Linked DNA regions of Homo sapiens: region 2 is linked to region 1. Evidence: fine-mapped expression QTL. A gene starts in region 1. The other region holds a variant in brackets. All regions are shown on one strand. Distances are from middle to middle. Region 1 holds the start of TPD52L1 (TPD52 like 1). Region 2 holds the start of LOC100126584 (a long non-coding RNA gene).

The links.
Region 2: its variant is fine-mapped to the expression of TPD52L1 in skeletal muscle (GTEx, PIP 0.96).

The regions. Positions count from the first base shown.
Region 1 is chr6:125,144,531-125,161,251 of GRCh38, reverse strand. It overlaps TPD52L1 (TPD52 like 1), which reads right to left and starts at 7,479. Exons shown (of 7, transcript NM_003287.4): 1 at 7,282-7,479. The coding sequence starts at 7,300. RefSeq lists an enhancer at 6,096-6,683.
Region 2 is chr6:125,186,216-125,202,936 of GRCh38, reverse strand. The region is part of intron 1 of TPD52L1 (TPD52 like 1); the gene reads right to left. It overlaps LOC100126584 (a long non-coding RNA gene), which reads left to right and starts at 5,120. Exons shown (of 4, transcript NR_149043.1): 1 at 5,120-5,155; 2 at 12,273-12,328. The variant C/G (reference allele first, on the strand shown) is at 10,145.

The DNA.
Region 1 (16,721 bases):
TTCAATTTATGAAGGCTGAGAGAAATGAGAAAGCTGTGCAACAAAAGTTGGAAGCTAGCAGAGATTTGTTCATGAGGTTTAAGGAAAGAAGTCATCTCAGGCCTGGCATGGTGGCTCATGCCTGTAATCCCAGCACTTTGGGAGGCTGAGGCAGGTGGATCACCTTAGGTCAGGAGTTCCAGACCAGCCTGGACAACATGGTGAAACCCCATCTCTACTAAAAACACAAAAATTAGCAGGGCGTGGTGGCACGCACCTGTAATCCCTGCTATTCAGGAAGCGGAGGCAGGAGAATTTGCTTGAACCCAGGAGGTGAAGGTTGCAGTGAGCCAAGATCGTGCCACTGCACTCCAGCCTGGGTGACAGAGCAAGACTCCATCTCAAAAAAAAAAAAAAAAAAAGTCATCTCTGTAACATAAAAGTGCAAGGTGAAGCAGCAAGGGCTGTTGCCAAAGCTGCAGCAAGCTCTCCAGAAGATCTGGCTAAGATAGTTGATGAAAGTGGCTAAACTAAACAACACATTTTCATATAGATGAAACAGCCTTACACTGGAAGAAGATGTCAGCTAGGACTTTTATAGCTAGAGAGGAGGAGTCGATGCTTGGCTTCAAAACTTCAAAGTACAGGCTGACTCTCTTGTTAGGGGCTAATGTAGCTGGTGACTTTAAGTTACATGCTCACTTACTATTCAAAAAGTTCTAAGGCCCTTATGAATTATTCTAACTGTAACCAGATGCAGTGGCTCATGACTGTAATCCCAACACTTTGTGAGGCCAAGGCAGGAGGATTGCTTGAGCCCAGGAGTTCAAGGTGTCAGTGAGCTATGATGATCCCACTGTACTTCAGCCTAGGCAACCGAGCAAGACCTTTCATCTATGAAAATGCAAATACAAATAAATAAATAATTATTCTAAATCTATAGATTTAGAAAATGTGCTCTATAAATAGAATAACAAAGCCTGGGTAACTGTTTACAATATGGTTTCTTGAATATTTTAAGTCCACTATTAAGAACTACTGCTCAGAAAAAAAATATTTCTTTCTGAATATTACTTCTGGTTGATAACACACCTGTATTAGTCCATTCTTATGCTGCTAATAAAGACATACCCGAGACTAGGAAATTTGTAAAGAAAAAGAGGTTTAATGGACTCACAGTTCCGCATGGCTGGGGAGGCCTCACAATCATGATGGAAGGCACATCTCACATGGTGGCAGGCAAGAGGACATACTCAGGGGAACTCCCCTTTATAAAACCATCATGTCTCGTGAGACTTGCTATCATGAGAACAGCATGGGAAAGACCGGCACCTATGATTCAATTACCTCCCAATGGCTCCCTCCCATGACATGTGGGAATTATGGGAGCTACAATTCAAGATGAGATTTGGGTGGGGACACAGCCAAACAATATCATACGTGGTCACCCAAGAGTTCTGATGGAGATGTACAAAGAGATTAACATTGCTCACACGTCTACTAACACAACATCCACTCTTCAGCTTGTGGATCAGGGAGTAATTTTGACTTTCAAGTCGTATTATTTAAGAAATACATCTCATAAGAAAACAGCTGCCATAGATAGTGATTTTTTTGTTGGAACTAGGCAAAATAAATTGAAAACATTCTGGAAAGGATTCACCATTCTAGATGTCATTAAGAACATTCGTAATTCATGGGAGGTGGTCAAAATATCAACATTAACAGGAGTTTGGAAGATGTGGACTCCAACCCTCCTGAATGAGTTTGAGGTGTCCAAGATGTCAGTGGAGGAAATGAAGTGCAGATGTGGTAGAAACAGCAAAAGAAGCAGAAGTGGAGCCTGAAGATGTAACTAAATTTATGACATTTTAATCTCATGCTAAAACTTGAATGAATGAGGTGTTGCTTCTTATGGATGAGCAAAGAGTGGTTTCTTGAGATGGAATCTACTCCCAGTGAAGATGTTCACAGCACTGTGTAAATGACAACAAAGGATTTAGAATTATATAAATTTAGTCGATAAAGCAGTGGCAGGGCTTGAGAGGATTGATTCCAATATTGAAAGAAGTTCTATCGCAGACAAAATGCTACCAAACAGCATTACAGGCTATATATAAATCTTCTTGAAAGGAATAGTCAATCTATGTGACAAACTTCCTCGTTGTCTTACTTTAATAAATTGCCACAGCCACCTCAGCCTTCGGCAACCACCATTCGGATCAGTCAGCAGCCATCGACATCCAGGCAAGACCCTCCACCAGTAAAACACTTACCACTCAGTGAAGGCACAAATGATCGTTAGCAATTTTTAGCAAAAAGTATCTTTTACATAAAGGTATGTACCTTTTCTTAGATAGCATGCTATTGCACATTTAACAAACTACAGTATAGTATAAACATAACTTTTATATGCACTAGAAAACCAAAAAACGTGTGTGACTCGCTGTATTCCAATATTCACTTCTTTGGGGTGATCTGGAACTGAACCCACACTATCTCCAAGGTATGCCTGTATAAGAGACTGGACCTGCTGCTGTTTGACAGAAGGAAGAATGGTTCTTTTATCATTTTATAACAAAATGCCATACTTCCTTTATAAAGTAAGAATTTATCTTCCATGCAATATCAATAAAAGTAATGTGATTATATTCATTTTTCTAGAGCTTCATCCCTTGCTTCCTTTTCTCTTCTTATCCTCATTTATTTTCTTTCATCTATTTTTAATTTACATTATCTTGTTGCATTTCAAGTATCCATATAAACTGCCTTATGTACTTCCTGAAACAAGATAAAATTATATAAATGTTCTGTGAGCAAAGTATAATGTAAGGTATAAAGTATAATGTAAAGTATAATGTATAATGTAGAATGTATACTTATAATGTAAGTATAAAGTATAATGTAAAGTATAATGACATTTTCATTTAAAGGACTTTGCAAACAGTAGGGTTAATCTGATATTTATTGCTTTATTTCATTCATGGACATCTGAGACTCTTCTTGAGTGGATATAAAAAATAGTTATTATAGTAAACTGAATGATGGCCCCTAAATATATCCTAATTCCTGGAACCTGGAAATGTTACCTTTTGCAGGTGTGATTAAGTTAAAGGTCTTGAGAGAGAGAGAGATTATCCTGGATTATCTAGGTAGGTGCTAAATGAAATCACAAGTGTCCTTATAAGAGAGAGGCAGAGGGAGGTTTGATGCGAACAGAACAGAAAGCAGCATAACCACGGAGACAGAGAGATTGGAGTGATGCAGCCCAAGAATGTCGGCAGCCACCAGGAACTGAAAGAGGGAAAGACGATTTCTTTCTTAGAGCCTCCAGAGGAAGGACAGCGCTGCCGACACCTTGATTTCAGCCTAGTGATAGTGCCTTTGGAATTCTAACCGCCAAACAATGAGACAGCACATGTTAATTGTTTTAGGCCACGAAGTTTGTGGTAATTTTTACAGTGGCCTTGAGAAACTAACATAGTTATTAATTTGAATATATGCAAATGTTAAAAGGAGACAGTTTTCCTTGTAACATTAAAGACGTTGGGAAAGGTGAAAACAACAAAGTTATTTCCATTTAGAATAATAAAATATTGAAGGGTAGTTTAAAAGGATCAGGAAGTTTTTATTTTAAAGGACTACTGTATGTTTCGGGAAAATGCTACATTTCCAACCCAATTCCCTCTCTAACATATCAGTTGTCTTAAAGCAAAATTATCTGGTACCAGAGGAAAGCAAATAGGAATGCCATTCTCCTGTGGACATCTCTCTCCACGTTGTTCTCCAGCCCTCCTCAGTGAACAGCTCCACCCATAATCCCACTTCCTGTTTAGTGTCCTACCACCTCCCCTGAGAGTCCTCTTGTTTTGCTGGAAGTAATCTATTATTTTACAAAGTCAAAGAACATATTTGCATAATTTCACTTATGGGAAAGTTTCTAGTGCAGTAAGTTGCTGCACTTACTGAGCTATATGGGCGAATCATGTCCATAACACCTTGGTGTCTTCCTGGACAATATGAGGTACAACTCATCAGCAACTGCCTGCTTAATCTCACTTATCTTTACCTGTCTCTAGATTAGCAGGCAGAAAGACAAGCCATCTCCACTCTAGGTAATTCTAAAATAAACTGTGCTGAAGGTGGAAACTTACACTTTAAAAATCACAGAACTGTCTTATCTAGAATCTAAGAGGCAAATCATTCATTTAGCCAGAAAAAATGTGCAAGTGGAAAAAAGATTTCCCTTTAATATATGCTATAAACAGTTTGTGAGAAGTTTTTTCTTAAATAACTCAATATCTCTGCTTTATAAATAACAAAAAGTCTGAAAATGAAAATCTTAAAATGCTAGGCAAATAAAGATTTAAGAGGTAATTATCCTCCATTTGATTGTACAAGTAGGAAGCTGGTCATCCTTGACACTGCCCTCCTTCACATTCAATCCAATTTTGACTTTTCTTAAGTTTTTTTGTTGTTATTCTCTTTTTGTTTATCTGTTTTTGAGACAGAGTCTTGCCCTCTCGCCCAAGCTGGGGTGCAGTGATGTAATCACAGCTCACGGCTGCCTCCACCTGCTGGGCTCAGGTGATCCTCCCACCTCAACCTCCCAAATAGCTGGGATACAGGCACGCACCACCACACCCAGCTAATTTTTGTATTTTTTGTGGAGACAGCGTTTCACCATGTTGCCCAGGCTGATCTCAAACTCCTGGGCTCAAAAAATCTGTCTCCTCCAGCCTCCCAAAGTGCTGGAATTACAGGTGTGGCTGGCCTTTTTTGTATCTCTCTCTTTTTTTTTTTTTTTTTGAGACAAGGTCTCACTCTTGTCCAGACTAGAGTGCAATGCTGGGATTTTGGCTCACTGTAGCCACAAACTTCTGACCTCAAGCAATCCTCCCACTCCAGCCTTCCAAGTAGCTAGGCCTACAGGCACATGCCACCACACTCAGCTAATTCTGTTTATTTTTTGTAGAGATGAGGTCTCTCTATGTTGTCCAGGCTGGTCTCGAACTCCTGGGCTCTAAGTGATCCTCCTACCTTGGCCTCCCGAAGTGCTGGGATTACAAGTGTAAGCCACTGCACCTGGCCTCTTAAGTATTTATTAAATCTGTTCACTTTTCTCATATCCATTTGCCTTTTTACTAGTCCTCTTTACACCTAAAGTTTCCATCCAGTCATGAGGGGAAAGGAAGAGCACCACAGGACAGCTGGAGATTCAGGTGGGGACTGAAGTTTTACCTTTCCTCCAAAAGTCATAGGCTTTGAGTGAGAATGGGTCCCTCACAGCATCCACTTTGCTACTTTTTACCTATCTGGCTGTAAACAAGGAACTTATTAAAAAGTCATGGCAAAAATTGCAATTACTTTTGCACCAACCTAATACCTTCCATGCTTGTTTCCTCTCTGTAGAATGGGAATGAGAATATGAACTACCTCATGGGACTGCTGCGCACAGGAAATGAGTCCATCAATACATGCAAAGCACGAAGAACAGAGACAGGGACACAATAAACAATCTGCTCTTCTGATTATTGCATACTAGGGTTATAGTTTTTCAGGCTCTCGCTGCACTATGAGGCCCTTTCTTAGCATCAGCATGGCAGTGATTTTACATGTTATTTTTCAAATAGCTATCAAATTAATATTTGTCTCTTCCTCTACTGTAAATTTTATGAAGCAGATACCAAGTCTGTCTTTGCTCTTCTTAGCACAGTGCTTGGCAAAGGAAAGCACTGAAATATTTGTTAAGTAAATCTTGGAAGTAAAGCAAAGCAATAAAGCAAACCAGTGACACCAGTGGTTACCAGTCTGTAGTTTCGGATGTCTTCAGAAGTTGTATGAATGTTTCCTATCTGCTATAGTTCTTCTCCATCCTCACTAATATAAGCTTTCAAATATACCCATGTTCAGGTTCCAAAGATTCCAGTTTGACTGGGATGGGGTTGGCCAAGGCCAGTAATGAAGACTCTCTAAATAATTCTAATATGCAAGTCAGGTTGGAAAGCTCCGGTGCTGCTCCCACCAGCTTCAGTTCTGGCGTGAAGGCCTCCAACCTGACCTCTGCTTTTGAATTTGACCAACTGCCCTCACCCTTGGTTGAATTATCATTTCCTATCTACATAATAGAGGAAAAAATATGGGAAGCGGCAGCTTTACGGGCAGGACTTAGGAGGATGGAACAAACGAGTAAGGTTCGTGCTGTTCAGACAATTGTAATCCTGGCAGCAAACCTGTTGGGCGACTCCAGGCCCACGCAATCGCCAACCCACTCTCATTCAGGGCGTTCTGCCCCTAGAGGGCGAGCGCATCAGGTCATGAACCTTTTTTTTTTTCTTTTTAATGAGATTTTATCTATACTAAGAGCCAACACAGAGTTTCCTACTGTGTAAAAGAATGGTGGCTTTGATTGCCTTAAAGGCTGAACTCCGCAAGCCATCCCTTCTGGGCGTTGCTCCCCAAGGTAGATCACTGAGTCCGTTTCCTTCCCACTTGTCTCTCGCTCCACATCCGCCCACCTCTGCCCCTTTCCACGGTCCGTTTACCCCCATTCTTGAACGATTCCATCGGAATTCCCCAACCCTGTTCCAAGTGTGACCCCAAGATATGAGGCCGCCCTTCCTGAAGCCACCGCAGGCTCCTCCAGCAGGCAGCCCCGGGAGCAGGGAGCTGGGCGGCCGGGGGCCCCGCGCGCCACGGGAGGCAGAGGTCGCTCCCCGATCGCGGAAACCGGGACTCACGTGTGGATCTGCTGGAGGTCAGGGGGCCGGTAACGTTCACCTGGCCTCGGAAGGCGGGTCCCCGAGCGGGAAGCGTCTCGCGCAGCCGGGCTGCGGAGCCACCCCCTCGGCGGGCGATCCTCTCACTCCCTAACTTGGGAGCCACAAGCCGCGAGTCCACGGCGCTGGGCGAAAAGAGTCACATTCCCTCCCCACTCCCTCAAGGGAAAGGGAGCGAAACACGCTTTCCGGACCCGGCACAACAGGTCCTTCGGGCAGCCGCGAGGTTGGGAAGGCCAGGGGCGACTGGCTGCGGAAGAGGGTAGAGCATTCCACGGGCGCATTTCCTGAGGAGGGGCCTCTCCACTTACGGATCCCCTGTCACTTTATTGATCCCCAGACCCACAGCAAATCCTGAGTTTGGGCAGCAGGCATTATACCAAAGGCGCGGGTGGGAGTGGAGTTCTGGATGTGCAACACGGCACCAATCTGTTCTGTCCGAGAGCGAAGTTAGGTGGTGCAGGAAAAGAGCCTTTATGCGCGCCCCAGGACCTGACTCTCGGGGCGATCGGCGACCACTCACCTTGTGCCTGCGCCTCCATGGTGGCTGACTTCGAGCTGAGGGCGGCGGGGACACCCTGGTGCTTCCCAGAGCAGATGGCAGCTGCGCCCAGGCTCAGAACGCAGCTGGCCCCGCCGCTCGCTCCCACTCCTGGCACGCGTGTCGCGAGCGCTGCGCGGAGGGGGTTGGGGACGCAGGCAGCCGCCACTAGCCGCTTCTGGTTACCTCCGCCCCTTCCAGTCCACCTGGCCCAAACCAAGCTGGAACAAGCTCGCCGCTGGGCGCCACCTGCCGGCGCTCTGTACAGCCGGCGGAAGGCACCCACTCCCGGCGCTATAAGGGCATAACGCAGAGATATTGCAGGTTAGGTTCCAGACCCCCGCAATAAAGCGAGTATTGCAACAAAACGAGTCACACGAATTTTTCAGTTTCCTAATGCATATAAAAGTTACGTTTGCACTATGCTGTAGTCTGTTAAGTATGCAATAGCACGATGTCTAGAAAGAGCAATGTACCTACCTTAACTTAAAAAGATATTTTATTTCTAAAAAATGCTAAAGATCATCTTCACCTAATGGGAATCTTTTTGGTGGTGGAAGGCATTGCTTGGATGTTGATGGCTGCTGATTGATCCTGGTAGTGATTGCTGAAGGCTGCAATAGCTGTGTCAATTTCTTAAAATGGGACAACAATGAAGTTTGCTGCATCAATTGACTCTTCCTTTTATGAAAGATTTTTCTGTAGCATGCAATGCTGGTTGATAGCATTTTATCTACATTATAACTTTTTTCAAAATTGGAGTCAATCATCTCAAACCCTGCCATTGCTTTATCAACTAAGTTTATATAATTATAAATCTTTTGCTGTCATTTCAACAATGCTGTGAACAACTTCACCAGGAGTAGATTCCATTTCAAGTAACCATTTTCTTTGCTTGTCCATAAGAAGCAACTCCTCAACCATTCAAGTCTTATGAGATTGAGCAATTTACTCACATATTCAGGCTCCACTTCTAATTCTAGTTCTCTTGCTATTTCTACCATATCTGCAGTTACTTCCTGCTTTGAAGTCCTGAACTCCCAAAGTCATTCAGGAGGGTTGGAATCAACTTTTTCCAAACTCCTGTTAATGTTGACGTTTTGACTTCCTCCCACGAATTATAAATGTTCTTAATGGCATCTAGAATGGTGAATCTTTTCCAGAAGGTTTTCAATTTACTTTGCCCACATCCAACAGAAGAATCACTATTAATGGCAGCTATCTATTTATTTCTTAAATAATAAGGCTTGAAAGTCAAAATTACTCCTTTATCCATGGGCTACAAGATGAATGTTGTTTTGCCAGGCATGAAAACAACATTAATCTCTTCGTACATCTCCATCAACTGTTGAGTGACAAAGTATATTATTAACCAATATTAAGCAATAATATTTAGAAAGAAACATTTTTTGAGCAGTAAGTCTTAATAGTGGGCTTAAAAATATTCAATAAACCATGCTGTAAACAGATGTACTGTCATTCAAGTTTTGTTGTTCCATTTATAGAGCACAGGTGGAATATATTTAGCATAATTCTTAAGGGCTTTAAAATTTTCAGAATGGTAAATGAGCTTTGGCTTCAATGTAAAGTCACCAGCTACTTTTGCCCCTAACAAGAGAGTCAGTTTGTCCTTTGAAGCTTTGAAACCAGGTATTGACTTCTTTGTAGCTGTAAAAGTCCTTGGTAGCATCTTCTTCCAATATAAGGCTGTTTCATCCGTATTGAAAATGTGTTGTTTCGTGTAGCTACCTTCATCAATGATCTTAGCCAGATCTTCTGGAGAACTTGCTGCAGCTTTGACATCAGCCCTTGCTGCTTCACCTTACATTCATGTTATGGAGATGACTTCTTTCCTTAAGCCTCATGAGCCAGTCTCTGCTAGCTTCCAACTTTTCTTCTACAGATTCCTCACCTCTCTCAGGCTTTATAGAATTGAAGAGAGTGAGGGCTTTGCCCTGGATTAGGCTGTGGTTAAGAGAATGTTGTGACTGCTTTGATCGGGTTTGATCCAGACCACTCAAACTTTCCCCATATCAGCAAGAAAACTGTTTCACTTCCTTATCGTTTGTGTATTCACTGGAGTAGCACTTCTACTCTCCTTCAAGAAGTTTTCTTTTGCATTCACAGCTTGAATAACTCGTACAAGAGACCTAGCTTTTGGCCTATCTCAGCTTTCAACATGCCTTCCTCACTAAATTTAATCATGTCTAGCTTTCGATTTAAGGTGAGAGACATGTGACTCTTCCTTTCATGTGAATATTTGGAGGCGATTGTAGGGTTATTAATGAGCGTAACTACAATATTGTTGTGTCTCAGAGAATGGAGAGGCCTAAGAAGAGGGAGAGAGATGGGGAAATGGCTGGCTGGTGGAGCAGTCAGAACACACACAAGATTTATTGATTCAATTCACTGTCTTATATGGGCATGGATCAGGGTTCCCCAAAATAATTACAATGGTAACATCAAAGATCACTCATCCCAGATCACCATAACAGATATAATATAATGAAAAAGCTTGAAATATTGTGAGAATTACCAAAATGTGACACAGAGACATCAAGTGAGCACATGGCATTGGAAAAATGGCACCAATAGATTTGCTCAACATGGGGATGCCACAAACCTCCAATTTGTTAAAAACGCGATAGCTCACTCCTGTAATCCCAGCACTTTGAGAGGCCAAGGTGGGCGGATCACGAGGTCAGGAGATCAAGACTTTCCTGACTAACATGCTGAAACCCCATCTTTACTAAAAATACAAAAAATTGGCCAGGCGTGGTGGCACGCGCCTGCAGTCCCAGCTACTCGGGAGGCTGAGGCAGGAGAATCGCTTGAACCTGGGAGGCAGAGGTTGCAGTGAGCCGAGATTAGCCTGGGCAACAGAGCAAGACTCCATCAAAAAAAAAAAAATGCAGTGTCTGTGAAGCACAGTTAAGAGAAGCGCAATAAGACGGGTTGTGCCTGTAAAGGTCTGATACTATGCCCTGGACAGAGGAAGAGAACATGGTTTTACAATACTGAGCCATCACTCTTAGTGGAGATACGAAGGTAGGTTTCCACAAGCCGTGGTTCTAACATTTTTGTCAACTGATCAATACACAATTTTGTTTCTTTATATATTTTAGTTTAAAGACACCTTATTTCATGTATATCATGTATATTGTTGTTTCATTAACATTGAGCTAACAGCCAACAGCACTAAAACTCATACCAGAATCAAGTTTATTAAGCTTATTTAACATATATATTTTCTCTCTAAGGCACATCACAACCTTCTTGCACCTAGGAACACTAGACAGTACTTCAATGCTATCCTGGGGGGCCCAGAAAAATCACCAAAAAAAAAAGGTTTGTTTATAGACTGGAGAGATGAAACAAGAAGGCAGAGCTGCCTTGCTTTTCCTCAGCAGGAAACTTGAATCTTCTGGGGTCTCTATCCATGAGTCCCTGTAGGTTGTACTTGCAGGTTGATGAGACAGTCATGTTTTCAGACAGGACTAGAAATTCACAGCCCTGTTCCAAGGCTTTCCTGGTAATGAGATTAGAAAGCATGACAAGGAGTAAGAAATATCAGCTCCCATCTCTACTCCTCTGGCTTTGGATGTTACAGATCTCCCCTTTTTCTCAACATCTACACGATCTTCATCTGTAAAATACAATGTGGTACTTATTTACATTTGGTCTTGAATAGTTTGCCACTTGGGTTTTTGTTTCCTCTTCCTTTCTTAAAATAGATGGTAAAGTCTGTCAGGTTTGAGTGTGGATATTATGTTAAACCTCCCATAATTCCTGACAAAAAGTCTTATAAAAATTTCATAGCTCAAAAAGATTTATTGAATAAACAATTAACTAACCAGTAGGTTATATTTTATCCATGCCCAAGTTTGCACAGTATAGACTAATAAACATAAATGGAGTCTTACATTTTTTTCTTGAAAGAAGGAATACTACTCATGGTTTCCTGGCACATGTACGAGCACCTCAGTGTGGTTTTTGTTATGTTGAAGATCTCACTGATTTGTAATCATTGCCATTAAAATTACTATGTAGAACACTAAGCATAAGGCTTTTAAATGACTTTTGGTAATAGTGACCAGGGATGCATGAAGTGAAGAATCAGTGATTAAATCACTTTTAAAGTCTATTCCGTTGTTCTGGTCTTCTATACCCTGGAAATTAAACACCAGGTTAGGGTTGACTCCCTGCTGCTAAAACGAGCTAAAAATAGTTAATGACTTCCCAGCTTGAGTCATCTAACCTTCATCTACACTCTGACTCATTTTTCTGATTTATAACATTTTAAGTTGCTACCCTTTTAATTTTTCAATCATTATTTATAATAATAAAATATTGGTATTCATTCCAAAATAGTTATTGAACATCTATATGCCAGGGACTGTGCTAGATGCTAAGGGTATGGGTTAAGGACATGCTCCTTCCTTACCAGGGAGTTCATGATCTGGTGAGAAGGAGGGATAAACAGGTTTTTTATAAAGCAGCGCCTCGTGGTAAGCGCTGTGCATAAAGGGTAAGCCCAGTGCGTCTGTGAGCACTGAGGGAAGCCTCCTAACTCAGGCTGGTGAGAAGTACAGAAATGTTTCTTTCAAAATGCTTGCCTCAGCTGTGTCTTAAGAGTAAAGGAATTAGTCAGGCAAGTTTGTGTTATCCCCCTAATAATGGTTTAGCCAAAGAAGACTATTATTGAAGTTAACATATTATAAAAATGAAGATTTTTCTATTTTGTCTTTTCTTTGTCTTTTCCTTGTCATTTAAGATGGTGAACTTTCTTAACTTCTTTAAAGCTTATTAAAACAGCCACCTTCACCCTCTCCTTTGTCTCTATGGCCACTCCAGATGCAAAACGCTGTGCAAGTGTTTGATTGAATCAATGAAATTCTGTTTAAAAATACCTTACTTAATGTATTTTGTTGCTTTAACATTAACATTGGTGTTGACATTAACATTAACATGAGACAGTCATGTTTTCAGACAAGACTAGAAACTCACAGTCCTGTCCCAAGGCTTGCCTGGTCATGCGATTAGAAAGCATGACAAGGAGTAAGAAATATCAACTCAGGTCTCTACCGATAGCACTATAACTCATATAAGAACGAAGTTTGTTTAGAAAGTTGATCATTCTATAGGGGTGAAATGCAGTAGAAATCTCAACTGTCCAAAGGAAATGTGTATTCAACAGTTTTTACTTACACCAGTTCCCGGTCACTTGTAATGTATGGGTCTGAAGGCATCGTGGGAGGTGGACAGGGCACAGAAATGAGAGGAAGGAGTAGAAAGGACAGGTGAAGTGTGCTGCTCTGGCCTATGAACTTTACAAATACATTGAAAGAGAACATGAGCTTTGGGGCTCCATTAGATTCCCACTCTGAAAACTACCAGCTGTATCACCTAAAGGAATTGTCTCAGTCTCTCTGTGCCTGGCTTTCTGCATTTGTGTCACGATGCTATATGAGGTATTAATGGGCATGTTCTTTCCCTCCTATCCCACTGGGCACCTGTGCTTTTAAAGCAGTGGTTCCCAGTCATCTTCTACATCAGCACCACATGAGTGGCTTTTAAACATTTCTGATACCTGGGTTCTACCCCACAAGTATTCTGATTTGTCTTTTTAAATCTCTCTCGGTGATACTGATGTGCTTCCAAGATTGACAATGACCATTTCAGAAACTGTCCACAACAAAGATGAAAGGTTCTATAGTCTCAGCTTTTAAATTAAAACGTTGTCACCCAAGTAAACAGAAAATAATGAAAAAGAAATATGAGCAGGCAGCACAAGAATTTTTACCCCTAATTCCAGGGGAGTTGGAGAGGAAAAAAACATTGGGGAGGGCAGAGAAGTATGAAAGATTTAGACATGGCTCTGTCTACAGATTTCACCCTTCTTCTCCTTACTCCCATGAGAGCAAAGAGAACCTGGCCTCGACAATTGCATTGAGAACTCTGATGGCCAGATAGTTTTGAGAAACCTTAGGGATAGAACAAGTGCTCTTTGTCACTTTGAATTTTTCACCCTCTCAAGTGGTGTAGGAAGCCAGAGAGGAGTTTCCTTGAAGCCCCAGGTAGGGGGTGGAAGTTAGTGAGGAGAGAGAACTAGCTAGTAAGCCAATATCCCCAGGAGGCTGGAGAAAGGCAGCTTCCATTTCCTGAAGCCACATGAAGAAAAGGGTGCAACAGAATCTTTCATGAGGGTAGGAGGGGCTGCACAAAGGGAGAGGCATTCAGAACTCAGCCTAGCTGGAGGACTTACTGACCTCACCCCACATCATACTACTAAGCTGGGCAAAAGGAATGAGGAGAGATAGTTTGATTGCTCAGAAAGGGGACCAGCACCACCTTTTTTCCACCTCTACCAACTTCCCAGTTCTCAGGAAACATGGAAATTGGAGTCTACCCACCAGAGAGTTGGCTTTGGAGGAGGCCAGGGGAGATTAGTTGGCTGAATACTAGCTAGGACCACTGAAGCCGAAAGCTAGAGGTGAAGTGGACATCAGAGAGGTGCAGCACAAGGCCTGGCTAGGTTCCACCAGGGCCTGCAGGAGCTGCTGGTGAGTGAACACACTGTCAACCTCATCCATCTGGATATGGGGTCATTTGGGTTTTCTTTTCCCCTTCCTCTCAATTCCCATCCCACACACTTAGTCAAGAGGAGCTGGTTCCCAGAAGTGACAGGGTCCATAGACACCCAAAAACTAACTTTTGCATCATAACCTTCCAACACACACACACACACACACACACACACACACACACACACACACATGTTCCAAGCAGTGCTGAGAGAAGAAAGGAAAAGAGATTGTTGAGGCTCAGAACACTATACACCAAAGTATGGCACATTGGCATGCCAAATACTAGGTCCCTTTCCTTCACTTCAAAGCATTCAAATACATTCCTCTAACCTTGCCCCACCTTTCTGTGTAGGAGCTGGCCATAAATTATTTGGCCTACCTTGACTGATAGTAGGTCACAAGACCCTCATTCTAGAGTGGTTCTGCCCCACACCCTGGAGGGAGGAGCACCACACCAAGAGGCCAAGAAGCATCCAACAGCCAAGCCTTGCTTGGTGTGTTAGGATGTTCTTGCATTGCTTTAAATACTTGGGACTGGGTAGTTTATTTTAAAAAGAAGTTTAATTGACTCTCAGTCCTGCAGACTGTACAGGAAGCATGTCTTCAGCATCTGCTTGGCTTCCGAGGAGGTCACAGGGAGCTTTTACTCACAGTAGAAGGTGAAGCAGGAGTCGGCATATCACATGGCAAGAGAGGGGCAAGAGAGAGAGAGTAGGAGGTGCCCCACACTTTTAAATGACCAAATCTTCCGCGAACTCACTTATCAGAAAGGGGATGGTGCTAATCCATTCATGAGGGAGCCGCTTCCGTGAGCCAAGGACCTCGCATTGCACCCTACCTCCAACACTGGGTATTACATTTCAACATGAGGTTTGGTGGGAACACAGATCCAAACCGTATCACTGGGTTTCCCCTCTCAACCTATGACCATTAGATCATACCCCTTCTGTTCAATCACATTTCCTCATGGCTGTCCATTCTTCACTGAACATAAAATTAAGCATAAAAATAGAGTTTTCTTAGGTCTTTAGGTCTTCATTTATGAAGACTCCCCGTCACATAAAGCTTTGATTAAATAAGTTGCTTTTGGTTAAATAAATGTGCTTTTCTCCTGTTAATCTGTCTTTGTCGGTTTTTATTTCAGACCGAGCCAGGAGCCCTAGGAGGTTTGAGGAAACTTTTCCTTCCCTATAAGATTTACTTTGCACTTTGGGAGGCCGAGGTGGGTGGATCTCCTGAGGTCAGGAGTTCGAGACCAGCCTGACCAGCATGGCAAAACCCCGTCTCTACTACAAATACAAAAATTAGCCGGGCATGTGGTGGGCACCTGTAATCCCAACTACTTGGGAAGCTAAGGCAGGAGAATTGCTTGAACCTGGGAGGCAGAGGTTGCAGTGAGCTGAGATTGTGCCATTGCACTCCACCCTTGGTGACAGAGCAAGACTCTACCTCAAAAAAAATAAAAGATTTACTTTGACATTGAGAAGACTAAATCATATAGATCATATACCAATATGAGACTGTTCTAATTACTAAAAACTAACAAAAATTAATAAATCTTGACCAGATGCCTGAAAGAGAGCCCCTATTCAGCCAGTTGAAAGAACAATTATTTCATAAAGTACAAACATTTCATGTTTATCCCTCAAAAAGTTGTAGCTTCCCAACAAATTGAATGCATTACATGAAATGCTTTACACAAAGCTTAATGAATAAATTTTGTCTTTTCTACATTCCACTAAAGTTTCTAGACATATTCACTGGATCTGTAAATAATGCATGGATATTCAGAGAACTTGGAGGATAAAGGTGCTTATTTTCATTACAAAAGGACATATTATTTAGTTGTATCCTGAGGTTCCCATATACTAAAGCTTATTCCTTTACCCTTGAAAACTTTTTGAGAAATATATAATTGCTTTTACTAACAATCTCTAAAATGCATTTAAAATTTATTAGATCTCTGAGATTTTAATGCAGGGTTTCTCAACATTGGCACTATCGACATTTTTGCTGGATAATTCTTTGTTGTGCTATATGATGTTTAGGAACATCACTGGCCTCTACCCACTAGAGGTAGAGAGTAGTAGCCCCATGGTCATGATGATCAAAAGTCTCCCTACATTGCCACATGTCTCCTGGAGGGCAAAATCACTCTCAGGTGAGAAACACAGCAGTACCTTTTTCTTGACAACTCAGAATCATTACAAGTAAAAGTTATTACCCTGTACAATATGGGGATCCCTACACTGAAGGAATGCCTTCTGAGCCTAGGCAGGGGTGGAGATTTTTGTCCGTCATTTCCACAAACAGCCACTCTTGGAGTTTTCCTGTTTCCCTCTGTTGTTGTTAGTCATTGTTCACCTGCTTCCTTAACACATCCTTAACATCCTTAACAGATGCCACCATAGGAAGGGAAAGGAGTGATACCTTTCCTCACCCATCATAAGGGTCAGGCTAAAACTCCTACAACAAAAGATAGGTTAGCAAGTGTGTTAGTGAGTTCTCAGAGGGATAGAACTAATTTTATATATATATATATATATATATATATATATATATATATATATATATAGAGTTTATTAAGTATTAACTCACACGATCTCCCACAATAGGCCATCTGCAAGCTGAGGAGCAAGGAGAGTCAGTCCGAGCCCCAAAACTGAAGAACTTGGAATCTGATGTTCAAGCGCAGGAAGCGCTGGGAGGCTAGGCCAGTCTAGTGTTTTCGTGTTTTTCACTGCTTTATATTCCAGCTGTGCTGGCAGCTGATTAGATGGTGCGCACCAAGAATAAGGGTGAGCCTGCCTTTCCCAGCCCACTGACTCAAATATT
Region 2 (16,721 bases), 42 kb before region 1:
AAAATTAGCCAGGTGTGGTGGTGGGTGCCTGTAATCCCAGCTACTCAGGAAGCTGAGGCAGGAGAATTGCTTGAACCGGGGAGGCAGAGTTTGCAGTGAGCTGAGATTGGGCCACTGCACTCCAGCCTGGGTGACAAGAGCAAGGCTCCGTCTCAAAAAAAAAAAAAAAAGATAAACCTCCAAATGTAACACTCAGCCTCCTTACATTTTTTGCCCTAAGCAAAAAGGAAAACAGTCTCACTTATTATATTATAAGAAAACTCCAGGGTAATAAATTATTCTGAATTCAAGCTCATTAATAAAAAGTCACTCATTTCAATTAAAATGAGAAGTAATCTCTTCTTCTTCTCCTTCTCCTCCTCATCCTCCTTCTTCTCACACCATCAAAAATAGACCAGAGAACTGATTTTCCACTCATTTCTTTGGTTAGCTGAGTAGCTGCGAGGCACCCAAGCTAGAGTTGAGGGCTGTGGGACCAGTTTCTTATCTCCTTCAACTCCTGAGGGAGTGAGGTGAACACGACCTGTGCATGCCTTGAGCTTCACTGGACAGGATACATTCCATCTTAGGTCATTCCTTAAAGGCTCACTGATCTTATAAAGTGCTGAGTCATCTTTCAGAGCTAGTTCAGGAAAAAATTTTCTTGACAATGAAAGATATTCACTATGAACACAAAGCAGGACAAAATGTAGCTTTTTTTTTCAAGGCATGTTTAAAGAAAGGGATAGATAGTAAGAAAGACTTCCTCAGACAGGCCTGAGATTTTTACAGTTCTCTAATCTTTGCACAACTTCAATGCAAAGGCGAGGGTTAGACAGCGATGCCATGATGCAACCACAAACACATCACGCCTGGACCCATGCCTACTGGGACTGCAGCCAGATTCAGGGGCCTGAACATTCAAAAAGCATTGGTCAGACGTATAGACAGTCTTCCCTTTACTTTAAGCAAATCGGTTCAGTAACATTCACATTTCTTCAATGTCTCTTATCAAATCTTTAGCATTCCAAATAGCTACTACTGACAATGCCCAGGAAAAAAATCCTTTTTCCTTCTGAAATCTGAGTAGCAAAATAAATGCTAAAGGAGATGGAAATATGTGTTTCTGAGTCGTGACATGTTGAGCAAGAATAAAATATGCAAGAATTAGAAAAGTTTCACTCAAGTCACAGACAAGAAAATGCAATGGTGAGATGAAATATGAAAAGACACTTATCCTCACTAGCAATAGGGAAAGCACAAATTAGAATCACAGAGATACTGTTTTTCATCTAAGATATTTGCAAAGAAGCCAAAATGGGATAAGAGCCTGTGTTGGCAAGATTGTGAAAAAATGGATCCTTTAACCACACATTGTTGGCTTTTGCACTGTGACACCTGATTGGGAGAGCCTTTGACACTGCCATCCCACTTTTGAGAATCAATCTTACAGAAAAAAAGGTGCAAACCTAAGGAGAGAGTATAAATCATTGTTGGTAGTGGTAGAAAACTACAAAAACCTAAACGTCCATCAGTAGGGCACCAGTATTCAAGTATAATATACCCACACTGTATACTATTTTTCAGTTATTAAAATTTGTGAAAATAAATATAATGCAAAAGTTGTTGCGACCCCCAAAGCACTTTAAGTCTTGAGAAAGATGTGACTGTGATCTGAGTCACATATGGTTATAATTTCTGTTTCTCAGATTATACATTAACTCACTTTCTTATTTTTCTCGTTCTCTACAATGGCTAGAGATAATTAAATGTCCAGGACAAAAATCTCCTGCCTTCTTAATGACCCTTGCTATAGATTGACTTCCTCTTTGGTACCTTGCTTTGCTAAGACCACATGACAGAAAACCCATGACTACTATGCCCTCTGTAATGAATGTTAAATGTAACTTTTCCAAAAAGAAACGCTGCCTATAAACCAATCAAATTGCTGTAACAATGTGCCAACCCTGTCTGAAAAATGAAATATGCTAAAAACTTCCCTGTCCCTGACTACATAAATGAAACCTTAATTTCCCTACTTTAGAACGCTGACTCCATTCCTTTGGAGTTGGCATGTTTGAGTTGGCCACCCTCACAATATGCACTTAAATAACCTCTCCTTAAATTGGATTCTGACCCTTATGACTACCTTAGGTTGACAAAATAATGAATTGGATTGACATGTATTGACTAGGAGGAATTTTCATTGTATATTGTTGAATGCAAAAATCAAGTTACTGCATCATATTTGCATCTGCACCATTTGGGGGAGGAATAAAACACCATTTTTATGTGAACATGAACATCCATGCATTTGTATGAGCATTGAGAAAGTTGAGAAAGGATATGTACCAAATTGTTAATGTTGGCTGCTGCAAAAGGGTGAGGTTGGACAGGGAGAAGATGATTCACTCTGTTTTATATTCCTCTGTATTACTTGACTGTTTACAATAAGCACGTATATAACTGTTAATTTTTTTAAAATTTGTATTTACTTGCTCTGCAGATAAATGACTACTGAGGGACATTTAAAAATTAGGACATGCTAAATTATTCAAAAAACCATGTATATCTTTTGTCTCTAGTTCCTGAAAACATTTCCAATATTTCAAATAGATTCTTTACAAAGAAAATACCTACGAAAATCTGTTTGTGGCTAGTGCAATTATAGACAATCTTGAACACATTTTTTTAACAACTGACTGAATCTAGAGCTATTTTTTTAAATAGATCAAACGATCTTAAGAATTCATTAATGCAATTCATGGCATGCTGAACATAAAAGCAGGAAGAGGCCTATGTTCTCTTTCAAAATCCTTCCCAGATGGCAAACAAAGCTCAAAAATGAAAGTCTGCAAATAAGATGACTGAAAGAGGGGTTTAATAATCAGTGGCTTTGAAAATGCATGTTCCCTTTTTAAAAGGTGGCTTTTCAGAAGTTTAGCACAGTAAAGCACCTGTGAAAGGTAGCAATGACCCTGTGTCCCTGCTTACCCAGTCTAGGCAATGAGGTGATGAGCCACTAAGGAGGCTTCCCCTAATGTAATGGAACAACATGGAAATACAATGAAAGTCAAGCTTTAACAGGTGCTCTATGGCTCCAAAGCATCTTTATGTATTTTCTGCATTTTTATGACCTAAGTAATTTTTAATTTTTCACTATCTTATTTCCTATAATTTGTGCTATAAGTGCTCAATTCTAGCACATTTAATTTGTATATTGCAGGCAAGCTAAACTTAATATCTCCTTTACTTTTATTTTGATTTTTTTTGAGATGGGGTTTTGCTTTTGTTGCCCAGGCTGGAGTGCAATGGTGCAATCTTGGCTCACTGCAACCTCCGCCTCCCAGGTTCAAGTGATTCTCCAGCCTCAGCCTCCCAAGTAGCTGGGATTACAGGCATGTAGCACCACGCCTGGCTAATTTTGTATTTTTAGTAGAGATGAGGTTTTACCATGTTGGTCAGGCTGGTCTTGAACTCCTGACCTCAGGTGATTCTGCCCGCCGCAGCCTCCCAAAGTGTTGGGATTACAGGCGTGAGCCACTGCGCCTGGCCTCTTTTACTTTCATTTGACTGAAAATAATTATCTCTGTACACAGAATTTAACATGTGACTTTTTCTTGATCCTACATGATATGCAAATATCAATAATTATTTAGTAAATCATACAAGTCTAGCAAAACATTTTTTATACTACATTACTGGTAAAAATTAAAATCAACAAAATCCAGCTTAGCTCCTTCAATCTATTGTCCAATAAACAAATCGAGTCATTAGAATTATTTAAGTCAAAACCACAAAAACCTTTTACTTTCTCTTGAGAATCAAGGAAGACTTTTCTCTCACAAGAATCAGATTTTGTTTCATAGCAAGGTTTAGATTTGATAGGCTTTTTGTCCTTTAAGTGCTGGTAGAGGTCAATAATGTTAATATGTTAACATGTTCTTATTCCTAAGGATGAAGGAAATCAGCTAAACTCATCTCATCTTGCTATGACCATTTCGCCGGATTTCTCAGCCTCAGCACTATGGAATTTCAGGTAGGGGAACTCATTGTTGTGATTGTAGGGAACTGTGTGTTCACTGCAGGATGCTCAGCAGTATATCTGGCCTCTGCCAACTAGATACGAGTAGTACTCATCCCGTAAGTTGTGGCAATCAGCACTGTCTCGAGACATTGCCCGTTTCCAAAATTGAGCCATTGACAACACATTGAGGAAGCTCTGCTCAACAGACACAGAGACAGCTGCATGCTCATAATTTTGGCTGACACTTGTGTTCACAATGTGTTAGGCACTGTGCCAAAGATTTTATGCACATTATTTTATACACATCCCTAATTTATAAAGAGGAAAATTGACGTTCATAGACAGAAAGTGGTTGAGCTGGGTTTCCCTGCTTTTTCTATACTCAGGTGACCAATAACTTCCATGTGTCCTTGGCATTCTCAGCTTTGGAAGCTGGTCATGTGTTTGTGGTCACGTGTTTGTAAATAGATCTCTCTTACCCCATGCATGCAAGTATGTATGCAGGGATAGAACTGGGTATAACTCTACCCAAATGAGTAAAGATGGACAATGAAGGAAAGGACTTTGAAATTCTCCCATCTCTAGTAAGTAGCTGAAAATCACTTATCACTATAGGTTTCCAACACTATACAAGATGCCTGTGAAGACAATAGACACAGAAGACTCAAATTGCCTGAAAGGGTTTAGAGCACTGTAAGAACCTCCCAGTATCTGATGGCCTCTTGGGTTGTTCCTGCTGTAATCAGGAAACTAACTCCAGACCTCTGTCCCTGAAGGTAGACAGAGCTTCGGCTCCTTCTCTCAGAGGGCAAAGCAGAGTTCAAGATCACACTCAGATCAGCCAGAGTGCCCTGGTCTTGGCTTGAAGCCCAGGGTATAATCCTAGTTCCTGGTAGGGCTTTGACTGTGTTGACCTTCCCAGATCTTGGCTGCTTCTTATTTAACTGGAGCCAAGGACTCACTCAGAAGTTCCAGGGCTAACCGATCCCTTGGCCTGCCTCACACTGACCTTGAGCTGCAGCATTTACCCAGCCTTTCCTGAGTGAACTCCAGCAGTGAGCTGCTATTAATCACACCCTGTTGTAACATCCCCTGCCTCCCTCTTCCATTTCCTTTTCTCTGGAGACACTAGCGCCTGTGCTGTTTCAGGTAATGGACACCCAGATGCCTCTTTTAGACTCTGAAAATTGGATGGGGCAACCCCTCACCTCTGACGCTTAGTGGGCTGTTATTTTATAAATAACATGTTTGTATAACTGATTAGTACTTTATATTATATTCCACCTTGGGTGAAAAATAGACTTTGCTTAAAAAAAAATCCTTCTGACTGTTCTTCCTCTTAGAGTTCTAAACTCTGCACTTTTCAAAAGAGTCTGTTCTTTTGGGCCTAGCAAGCAGAAAGAGGAGAGTGTCTCTTGATCTGGGGGCAAACATTTCCCTAAAATTCTCCTGGTAGAAAAAGAACTCAAAATAGAAGTGAAAATGAGTTGCCGAAAAATAAGAAAAGTTATATTTCTTGCCCTTCTGAGTTTGTGAACTCACTGGATACCTGCTTGATATTGAACTAGATATGTGGTGGATATGTGCAGATTAGAACTATTAAATTAGATTATAGAGAGAACAGACCTACCAAGATGAAAACGTAAAATCATTCAAGGGATTGGAAGGTCAACATGATAACACATAAAACAGATTTTCATCTGGAAAAGGGACATCTCTAGAGACTGTTCATACAAGGAGGCTTATTCAAAGAGAAAGGACAGCCAGCTCTTTTCTCAGCAAGCAAGAAGGCTGGGCTAAAATTTCAGCAAGCATGATTATGAGTCTGTTTTAGGGGATACTTTCAGGTTATAAATTAAATGTAGCTCTCCGTGGTATAGAAAAGCTTGGGAAAAATCTTTTCTGACAACCCCAGTGGGAGATTCAGGACATGATTATTCTGATGAAAGGCACAGATCCGGCCAGATGTCTCTGAGTAGTTTTTCTTTTATTTTCTTTTTCTTCCTGCCTAATGATCTAGGAATATGACTACACTTTTGATACTATGGGAGAGGAATTCCAATGCTGGATCTGCAACTAATTGGCTCTGAGCAAGATTCTTATTCACGCTCACCTCCATACCTCATGTATAAATAAGGGTGACAGCATGTCATACTTATAAGTCCGTAGACACCATGGTGATGAGTGAGGTGGAGAGTCTAAGAATAGTCTGATATCAAATACAGGGATGTGAGGAAAAAAGAAAGTTCTATTTTCAAGGAAATTTGCTACACAGTTTGAACAGAATCTGATAAACACCAAAGTATATATTACAGATAAAATAAGCATTTCTTTGCAAGTTATTAAATGTCATGTGCTTTATATAAGCTAACAGAAAACATAATTCAATAACTTTTTAATGTAGTCCATGTCTTAAAAATAATTTGGCGATCATTGGTCTTGCGTTGAGACAGGAGCCACGACAATAATTATTTAGACTTTTTTGCATTTGCAGGGCACATGCCAAAAGTTGTTTATACATTACAACTATAGTTAAGCTTTTACATTAATGAAGCAGTAATTAAAACTTTGGAACTGCCCCAGGTGTTTCTGTGGCTAATGTAAGCTCATGCTTGATCTTATTTTCTCTCTGTGGCAGTCACAAGGCTTAAGGATATGGGATGAGAGTTTAAAAGAAAATATAAACAATTTTAAAAACAGCTACAACTTTGGAAGCTACAGAAAGCTTATCTTTCCTTGTTTTCCTGAGTCTTTGATGATTAATACATTTAGAGCCAAATTTAAGGGCATCACTCAAGTCCTACTGAATTAGAATCTTTGAGGTTAACCTTGCACATCTGTGTTTTGTTAATCCCCACTGGTGACACTGATGGGCAGCCAATGTCAAAACCCACTGATTTTAAATAATATAGTATGATGTAAGGGGCATTACTGTGAGCTCAGCACTATTCTAGGTCCTGGAGATACAATGATTATCAGAGCAGACAGGGCCTCTGCTCTCCTGAAGCTTAAGAGATGCATATGATGAGCAAGTGGGCAACAACTGGCCTGGCTGTGATAGCGCGAACAGGGCACTGTGATGGAGTGACTGGAGACAGGCTTTGTCACCATGCAAAACCAACAATGGTCTGAGAAGTTGCAGAAAGCCTCTCTAAGATGGGTCAGTGCACTTGGCCTTAAGAAGGAGTTGCTATGTGACATTCCAGAATAAAAGAGATTTCCAGGGAGAGGTAACAGCTAGGTCAGATGCCCTAAGGGTAAAACCTGCTTGGTACCTCAAAGGATCAAAAAGATGCCTGTTGACTGGACCAAGACAACAATGCAATTTGTTCAGTATCATCAGAGAATTTCACGTAAGTGCCTTTTCCATAGATCTAAAATTTACTTAATCTTATACCACTCAAAAATTTACTCATTTTATATAAAACCTTTCTCTCATGGATGGGTGACACAAAATGCAGAAGACATGCTTCTTACTCTCAAAGGACTTAGCGGTCCACAATGTACCCAGTGTGAAAATAAATATGATTTAAAACCTGTTGGAACCCTGAAGACACTTTAAGCCTTGAGAGAGATGTGATTGTGATCTGAGCCACACAGGGTTGTGACTTCTGTTTCTCAGATTATAGAACAACTTGTTTCTTATTGTTCTTGTTCTGTACAGTGACTAGAGAGACTCAAACAACAACAGGGACAAAAACCTGCTGCCATCTTAATGACCCTTGTTACAGATTAACTTCCCCTTTCTTGTCCTGCTTTGCTTAGGCCAGTTGACAGAAAACCCATAACCACTATACCCTCTGTAACAAATGTTATATGTATCCTTCCCAAAAAGAAACACAGCCTATACAACCAATCAAATTGCTGCAATTGTGTGCCAACTTTGTCAGAAAAATGTTGTAATCCTGCTAAAAACTCCCTGGTCTCTGACTATATATAAATGAAACTTTAACTTCCCTACTTCAGAACACTGACTCCATTCCTTTGGAGCTGGTGTTTATAGGTGGGCTATCCTCAAACTTTGCCCTTGAATAAACTCTCTCTAAGTCAGATTCTGACCCTTTTGATTATTTTAGGTTGACACCAACTAACTATAAATAAGAAAAGAAAACATTAAATGCTTTAACCAAGGTTTAAACTACGTGCTATTAACACAAATAAGGAATATTTAATTCCAATAGCTGACACCAAAGATCTTCATAGAGGTAATATTGTCTGAGTTTGGTCTTACAAAGTAGGAAGATTTCATTCTCGTTTCGGCAGCACATATATTAAAATAAGATTTAGACAGAGGTAGAGAGGGCATCTTATATGGAAGATCATTGGCAAAGTATCAGGTACATTGAAAGAACCAAGAGCTGCTTGATTGCCTGGGGTCAGGGTTCCAGGGGAACCTAAGGATAGTATGAAATACGCCAAAAAGGACATTTGGTCCAGATCATAGAGGACGTTGAATTCCATGGTAAGGAGTCTGGAAGCAGTAGAGAAGCACAGATTTTTGAGCAGAAGAATGATGGGATAAGAGATGTGTTTAAGGAAGAAAACACTACTTTCTTGGTGCTGCGATGTATTTCATGAATGACCTGAGGGGTTGTTGAGTTATAAACGGCCTTAACCTTTAAACAGAAAGCTCAGTAATGCTGAGACTGTAGAGTTAATGGTGAGTTAATGGTTCTTCTGGATCTTAGCCTGCTGTCAGCTGGCATTTCTAATTTATTGCAAACTAGACGCTTCCAAAGGAAATGGAAAAAGTCACACCTAAAACTAATCCTATAATTAAGTAAAACAAAAACAAAAACTCAAAATCCACAAGTAGTTCCAGTCCACTACTATTAGAAACTAAAAAGCATGGGGCCTTGTCCTTTTATCAGCCTTTTGTTTTTTTAGAAAAAAAAAAAAAAAAAAAACTATTCAGAAGACTTTTCCACAAAATTCTCTATTTATCTGAATCATTATGATTGAAGAGACTTGATCTATAAATTGAACCATCAGTGTTAGCCTCAAGAAAAGCAAAAACCCACTGGGTTGTGAGCTCCTTGAAGCCCCGGGCCAGGGCTTCATGACCACCAAAGCCCCAGCTCACTCTGCAAGGCTCCTAGCAGTTGCTCAGTGAAAACCAGTTGCATAATGAATGTATAACAGCTTGCACTCTTACCAACACTGATGCTGGAATTGGGAGAGGAGGACATATATACACACATGAATTAATATATTTGTTTTTCATATATTTTTAAAATATATGCATATATTTTTCATCTGTATGTGTGTTGCATAGGTATCTTTTCATGTATATATTTTCATATTTGTAACAGGCATATGTTTTCCATATATATGGCTATTTTCTGCCCTTCCTCAGCACCCACAGCAGTGTGGTGGCCTGTGAAGTTCTGCCATCACAGAGAGAGCACCAAAGGCAATAATTCACAGAAAAGCTGCTTGGGACTTTTGCAACCATTCTTGAGTCTACTGGTTCTCAGCTATTTTCCCATCCCAATACTCCTGAAGGCTATGGCACACCCATGAGGAACAGTGACTCAGTGTGACAGCAACGGACACACCTCACCCCACCCTACCCAGAAAGCATATCAGAAGAGGGAGAAGGAAAGGATGAGGGAAAGGAAAGGAGAACATAAACATAAGCAGTTTGAACAAAAAAGCCCCGAAGTCCTTCTGCTATACCCCACCAGGGACAGGTCTTAGCCACAGCCTCCATCCCCCCAACTTGAAAATCAAGTATCATTTAAGTGGTTGGCTTTCAGAGTTAGAGGGGCCTGAATCTAGTCCTAGCAACACAATTATCAGCAGAGTGATCCCAGTCATCACAGTTAGCTTCTCTATGCTTCACTTTCCTCATCTGCAAAAGAAAGATAATAGTAACTATCTCAAATAGCTACTTGGAGGATTAAATGAGACTAAATTGTATAAGCTGTTGGGCACAATGCTTAACACATAAGGATAATAAATAGATGTTAGCAATGATTATTATCAACAACCAGCCCTTATAATTAAATGTTTGCCATGGAGGACATGGATGCTAATCAAAGCTTCCAAGAAATCAGGTGGGACATTTGTGATAGATCCAGCTGTCACTGGGCTTTATCAACAAGGTATATGTGCAAGTCAGGTGCAGATGTGAGA[C/G]AGGTGAGTCCATATGGGTCCATCTGGGTGCAGACTCAGGCCCGCCACCAAAGCCGACCGTATGCAGCAAAGTGCTTGGTTGGTATTTGGAACCACGACTAATGTTCCCTTTTCTTTCTTGGTTCTTATTAATTCAGAAAAGCGGGCTCAGCCCTAGTTGGAAAGTCAACAAAGGGAACAAAAAACTGATGCTGGTTTTCTTAGGAATGAAGATGGGGCTCTCTGTTAAGGTGCTACTTCCTGCCTCAGGACTTGCGGGCAGATAAAATCAAGGGCTCTCTGGCAACAGCACAACCCCTGGTGGCCAGATGATGTCACTGCAGGTTTTTCTCCATTAAAAGAACATAGTATGAATGAGTCACATCACAGCTGCAACTCTGTTTCTCCTCCCCTGCATAGACTATGCTCTAAGCTACCAGCAAGTACATTCGGGGATCCTGCTGAGGCAACACCAGATAAAAAAAAAAAAAAGATTTTTTTTGTTGTTGTTCTCAAAATTCTGATTGCTGCAGATTGAACCCAAAGAACTTTATTCTGCTCAGGTCAGCCGGGTTCTGAAACTCTTGGCATTAAAAGCAGAGTGGGTGACAATCATAAACCTACAGTTAAATGTCTAGTGTCCTGAGTGCCAGGCTCATCAGGAAAACAAAAATTTCCACTTGTAGTCAAAGCCAACCTCAGCCCCTCCCACTATTCTCCTACAACAAAGGCCCTAAGGGAACAGTGAGGAAAGAACGTGGCTTTCTTCCCCCCTGGCATGCTACAGAAGCTATCGTGAAAGCTGGTGACTATTTAGTAGATATGTCAGGGTCCTTCATTCATAATTTTGTTCAAATCTTTTGATTCTACTTAGATTCTGCTTTAGAATAGCAAAGTCCATATGCTATTACACAGTATGAATACTGGCTCTTTTTCATTTCTTCTTGAACTTACCTTGTTAAAAAATAATAATAGCTTGTAATGACAAGGTATGTCAGTGCCCAATGAACAGAAGGGAGGGGGAGAAAAAACAGAGGTATCTGAAGGCCACTGAGGATAGGGAGACATTCCACAGTTGTTCACTTCTTCCTTCACTCCCAGCTCTCTCTCTCCTCAGATGATAGGGAGGTAAACATGCTTAGAGTTCATTTGGTCTTACACTCAGAATGTCTGCACCCTGTTTCTCTATTTTGATGAACTATATGCCAGGATAGCCAGCCAAGTAGAAAACACTGCCGTTCTTGCACATCTACAATGCTGCACAAGTAACATTTCACAATGGGTAGGTTCCTCTGCACTGTTTCAGTTAGAAGAAAGAACACAATTCACCCAATTTTAAACACATCATTATCCCTTCACCATTTCCTTTCAAAATCAAAGAAAAGGAATTAAGTCCATATTTTGATGGGAGCTGGAAAAAAACGTTTGGACTCTCCCTTCTTCATTTAGAAAAGGAAAAGCTGCCCCCTTTCACAGAAACACATCAAGCAAGTGGACAATGAGCGACATACAGGTGCAAATGCCAAAGGACAATTTGTTCTTCTGCAAAATCATTCAGCAGGAAATTGGGCTAAGAGTATTACTGAGAATAAAGAAAGCGTGGCTGGAACAAAATAAACAACAACGCAACTCCACAGCAAGAAAAGAAAACCCAAGATCAGCAAGGAATGATTCCATGTAAGAGAGAAATGTTAACTGTAGTTGTGAGGACAAGTGAATTTAAAATCATATTAAGATTCCACATAATGTTACACGATATACAAATCACTATAGTTAATATGTAGAGTCAAGACAACAAGAGTAGATGGTGCCATTGTTACCTTGATGTAGCAACAGAGAATGATATATTCAGTACAACATACTCTAAAGCAGGGGTCCCCAACCCCTGGGCTACATACAGGCGGTTAGGAACAAGGCCGCACAGCAGGAGGTGAGTGGCAGGCAAGCCAGCAAGGCTTCATCTGTATTTACAGTGGCTCCCCATTGCTTGCATTACAGCCTGAGCTCTGCCACCTGTGGGATCAGTGGCAGCATTTGATTCTCAAAGGAGTGCGAACCCTATTGTAAACTGCACATTGAGGGATCTAGGTTGTTCACTCCCTATGAAAATCTAATGCCTGATGGTGTCACTGTCTTCCATCACCCTCAGATGAGACCATCTAGATGCAGAAAAACAAGCTCAGGACTCCCACTGACTACATTAGGGTAAGTGGCATAATTATTTCATTATATATTACAATATAATAATAATAGAAATAAAGTGCTCAGTAAATGTAATGTTTTTGAGTCATCCCAAAACCATCCCCCAACCTTCGTCTGTGGAAAAACTGTCTTCCAGGAAACCAGTCCCTGGTACCCAAAAGGTTAGGGACTGCTGCTGTAAAGCGTGCTGGGACAGTCTTCATGGCTCTGAGTCTCATGGGTTCCCGTTATCAGTTTGGTTGTTGCAGTGACTCCCACAAGCTACCAACTTCAGTACTGTTTTCAGAAAAAAATGACCTAGAACCTAACAGAAAATGGACCACCAGGGACAACGGTCGGCTTCATTTGGGTCTGGTCACAAAATTGGGGTCATATTTTGACAGTCCTACAAACTAAGAATTCCTGCCATTCACAAAGTCACAGCTGGTAGAAATTCTTCAAATTATGATCAATATAGTTCACAGAAACTATTTCCAGTGGCACTTTTAGTTACTTTGAAGTTGTCTTCAGCCATAGAAAGACATGGCAAATGTCTTAGAAGCAGATAGCTATATCTATACTTCCTTCTGTCCTAACCACCACCGACACCCCAATGTTGGTAGAGAATTCTAGTAAAGAAAGGAAAGTGGAAAGGTGAGTTTTAGGGTTACCTATAATTTGACTTTCTGTGTCTCAAAGTACCCTTTTTTGTTATGTGTTTTGTCAAACCTAAGTTATTATTGCTATTGCTTTTACTTTATATTCTTCTCTGTGTAGTGCATACTAAACAAACCTTAAAACACAAGTGGCTCAATTTACTTCAAATATTCATGTAAAATAAAATCGAGTTCCTTCAGTATCAGATTTGGAACTACTTCAGAGTGAAAAGGAAATAACAATGAGAATAGTGAAAGGAGGCTCATGGAAAAGTACCAAGCAGAGAGAGGTTGCCAACCTTTCCCCATGTGATGAACTCTCTTTTGACAACACCCACACAATCAAAGGCATCAATGTTAATCATTCAGAAAAATAAGTTAGGTTAAAAAAATTAAGTAAATGACAGGATAGAAAAGCCTTTGTTTTCCTAGTGAATATCTAAAAATGTGTCTTATACACATCTTAAATTAGGTATATTGTAAAAGAGGCCACAGGCAGAGTCCAGTTTCCACTGGCTTTTTGAAATTCTTTGCTCCCAAATCCAGTTAGATATAACACACATCATTTTACTTTGTAGTCAAAGTATGAGCCAGATTTTCAAACACTTCCACTTTAAATGCCTGTACATAAGTCACCTCTGTTCTTATGACCCACACAAATCCTGTATTTAGAATAGTGTACAACTGATCTCTACTGATTATGAAGAATTAAGTAGTCAATATGCCCAACTGGGGTTATTATTATAAAAGAATATACTTAAGTGTTGCTTAGTTTCATATGGAAATTCTTTTTCCAACTTTAGCTTATTCTTTTAAAGCCTAAATGGGAGAGGAATCCAAGAAAGCTTAGGGCAGAGTTGAAATCAACTGAGATGCCTTCTATTTATACCAAGATGACCAGTCTTCTCATGACAGTCCCAACTGTAGGAGAAAAATCGTTAGCTAAGGCATCTACCACAGCAGTTAAAATTTATTTGCCTCTAGCTTAAGCTAATTCTCTAAAAGTATTGCAAGGCTTTGGCCCAAGGTAAACTTAAAACTACCTTAAGGAACCTGCTGTCAGAAGGTCTTTCACATAAGCTGACCTTATTGGCATATGTGAAATAAAGTAAAACATGCCTAGGTCTGTATTTGACCTCACTGAGCAACTGTCTCTCCAGTCCAGTGAAAATCTTCTGACCATGGAATGCCATGCATGCCACTTTGATAGGAGTCCTTTGATGCAGTATGTTTTCAAACTGCAGGTCACTACCCCATTTAGTGGGTTACTAAGCCAACTCAGTGTGCTGTGATCAGTATTTTTTAAATGAGATAAAATAAAGTAGACTAGAAGAGAGTAGGAATTGTTTGGAATGCATATAATAAGAACAAGTAACATTTCATAAAATTTTGTTCATTATTTTATATGCACACACACACAGGCATGCACACACCAACACAACTCAATGTGATATAAAATGTATTTGTTACCCTGTGTCAGTTTTTGAGAAGTCTGAAAACCACTTCTAAGAAGGATATTTAATTTTATTGTTTCACATTGTATCTAAATGTTCACATACTACCAATCTATTCCCTCTTTTCAAGAAGGTAAGGGTAGGAGTAAACAGGATGGGTGCACCCACTTTTAGCTACACTAAGAACACAGCTGTGGGAGGAAGAATCAGCTCTTACTAGGTGAAGAAGACAGATCCACTGAAGGATAAAAATGTGCCTTTCCACTTGGATAACAAGCTGATGACGTGGATATCTTAACAGAGGAGAGAAGCACTGTAAAGTTTCCATTTGAGTCACTGGTTTTTTCCAAATATGGTAACTGGTTCCAAAACCTAAGAAGCTGAAGGCTTTGGCGGAATGTACTAATTAATATATGCTTGGCTAACTATGGGATACTCCCATTCAATAGGTGATGCCATAAAACCAGGACCTCTTCTCAATAGAAACGTCTAAAACAAGATCTCTATTAATTATTCTTAAATGTAAATGCTCTCCCACTCTCCACCATACCCCAGCTAATGCTGTGTTCCTCGACATCATTAAAAAAAAAAAAATCTCAGTTTAGTTTCCCAGTGTTTGAGAGGGTAGTTTAACTAATATCTTCTCTTTAAGGGGGGATTACAAATAAAAGTGCATCTGACACTTTCTGGATTTAAAATAAAACAAGATTTCATTTATTCTTTGGCAATGTGTGTGTGTATGTGTGTACATACACATTTACAACATAATTATACATACACACTACAGTATATATAATTATACATACACATACCAGAGTCTTTGCCACTGTTTGACAAAAATGATTTCATATTCTATAAACTCCTCTCCATCTTGTTAATCTTCACCATTCATACTAAATGTATGTGCCAAATGTTGGAGTTAAAATTCATTCTTTTAAAAGACTGCTGAATATTTCATGGTAAGCAAATACCGCATGTATTCAAACATTGCTCTTTTGATGGATATTTATTTTATTTTATTTTTTTCTGAAGAGAGGGTCTGCCTACCCTACTATAACCAGTGCTGCAATGCATAATTTTTGTACACGTATCATTACTTAAGCTAATTTTAGTTCCAGGAGAAGAATTTAAATTTTATTAGCTGTTGCCTGATTATTTTCCAAAAAGAGTGTAGTAATTCACATTTCTACCAGCAAGACATGAAACTACTCTTTCTCTATCCTTGTCAGCAATTGGAATTATCATACTTTTAATATTTTGCCTGTCCAAGGGATATAGCATAATGCCATATTGTTACTTAAATCTGCATTTCCTTATATAGTTAAGACTTTTCATACACGGCTGGCCAGTTATTTTTGCTCTCTGTAAATTACTCATTCAAATTATCTGCCTATTTTTCTATTGCTCTATCAAATTATTAGATTTTTTTCATATTGTATTGATATTAATCTATTAACTGGTATATGCAATGCAATCCTTTCTCCCACCTATTGTTTGTCTATTAAATTTGATGATATATTTTTTCTTGCAAATATTTAACATTTTCATAAAGGATAAAATGCCTATTTTTTTCTTTTGTACCTTTGCATTTCCAATCCCTTGGCTGAAACAGTCACCCCAATTACTACGTTGTACTTGATCATCTCATTTTTCTGTGAATATTTACATTGTGTTATAGTTTTTGGTTAAGATTTTAATCTATATAAAATTAACTTTATAAGGCATACAATAAAAGTCACATTTTGACTTTTCTGTGGCTGAGGTCCCAGTTTTCTGCCCCTAACTATGTGGTGTCACATAGTGCTTAGCTATGGTGTCAACGTCACACCGTTTTGATAAAGATGGCTTTATGGTACATATTAACAGCACATAAGGCAATTTCTTCCGCTTATAGTTATCATAACACTTTGTCATGTGTCACAGTTTATTCTTCAATAGATGCTCTAAGAGCACAATCTAATTTCAAAATATCTTTGTTGGGACTTTAACTGAAATTACACTAAATATAATATTAATTCATCTATTCAAGTTTTAAATTTTCCCTAGCTCAATTTTGGTAGTTTATATTTTGCTATACTGGGTTCCTCTGGTCCAGGGTTTGACAAACTATGACCTGCAGGCCAAATCCACCCATGGCCTATTTTCATAAATAAAGTTTGTTGGATCACAGTCATACCCATTTGATATTACAATGTCTAAGTCTCCTTTTGTGCTACAATGACAGAGTTGAGTGGTTGTGACAGAGGCGGTATGATCCAAAAAGCCTAAATCGTTTACTCTCTGGTCTTTACGGAGAAAGTTTGCAGA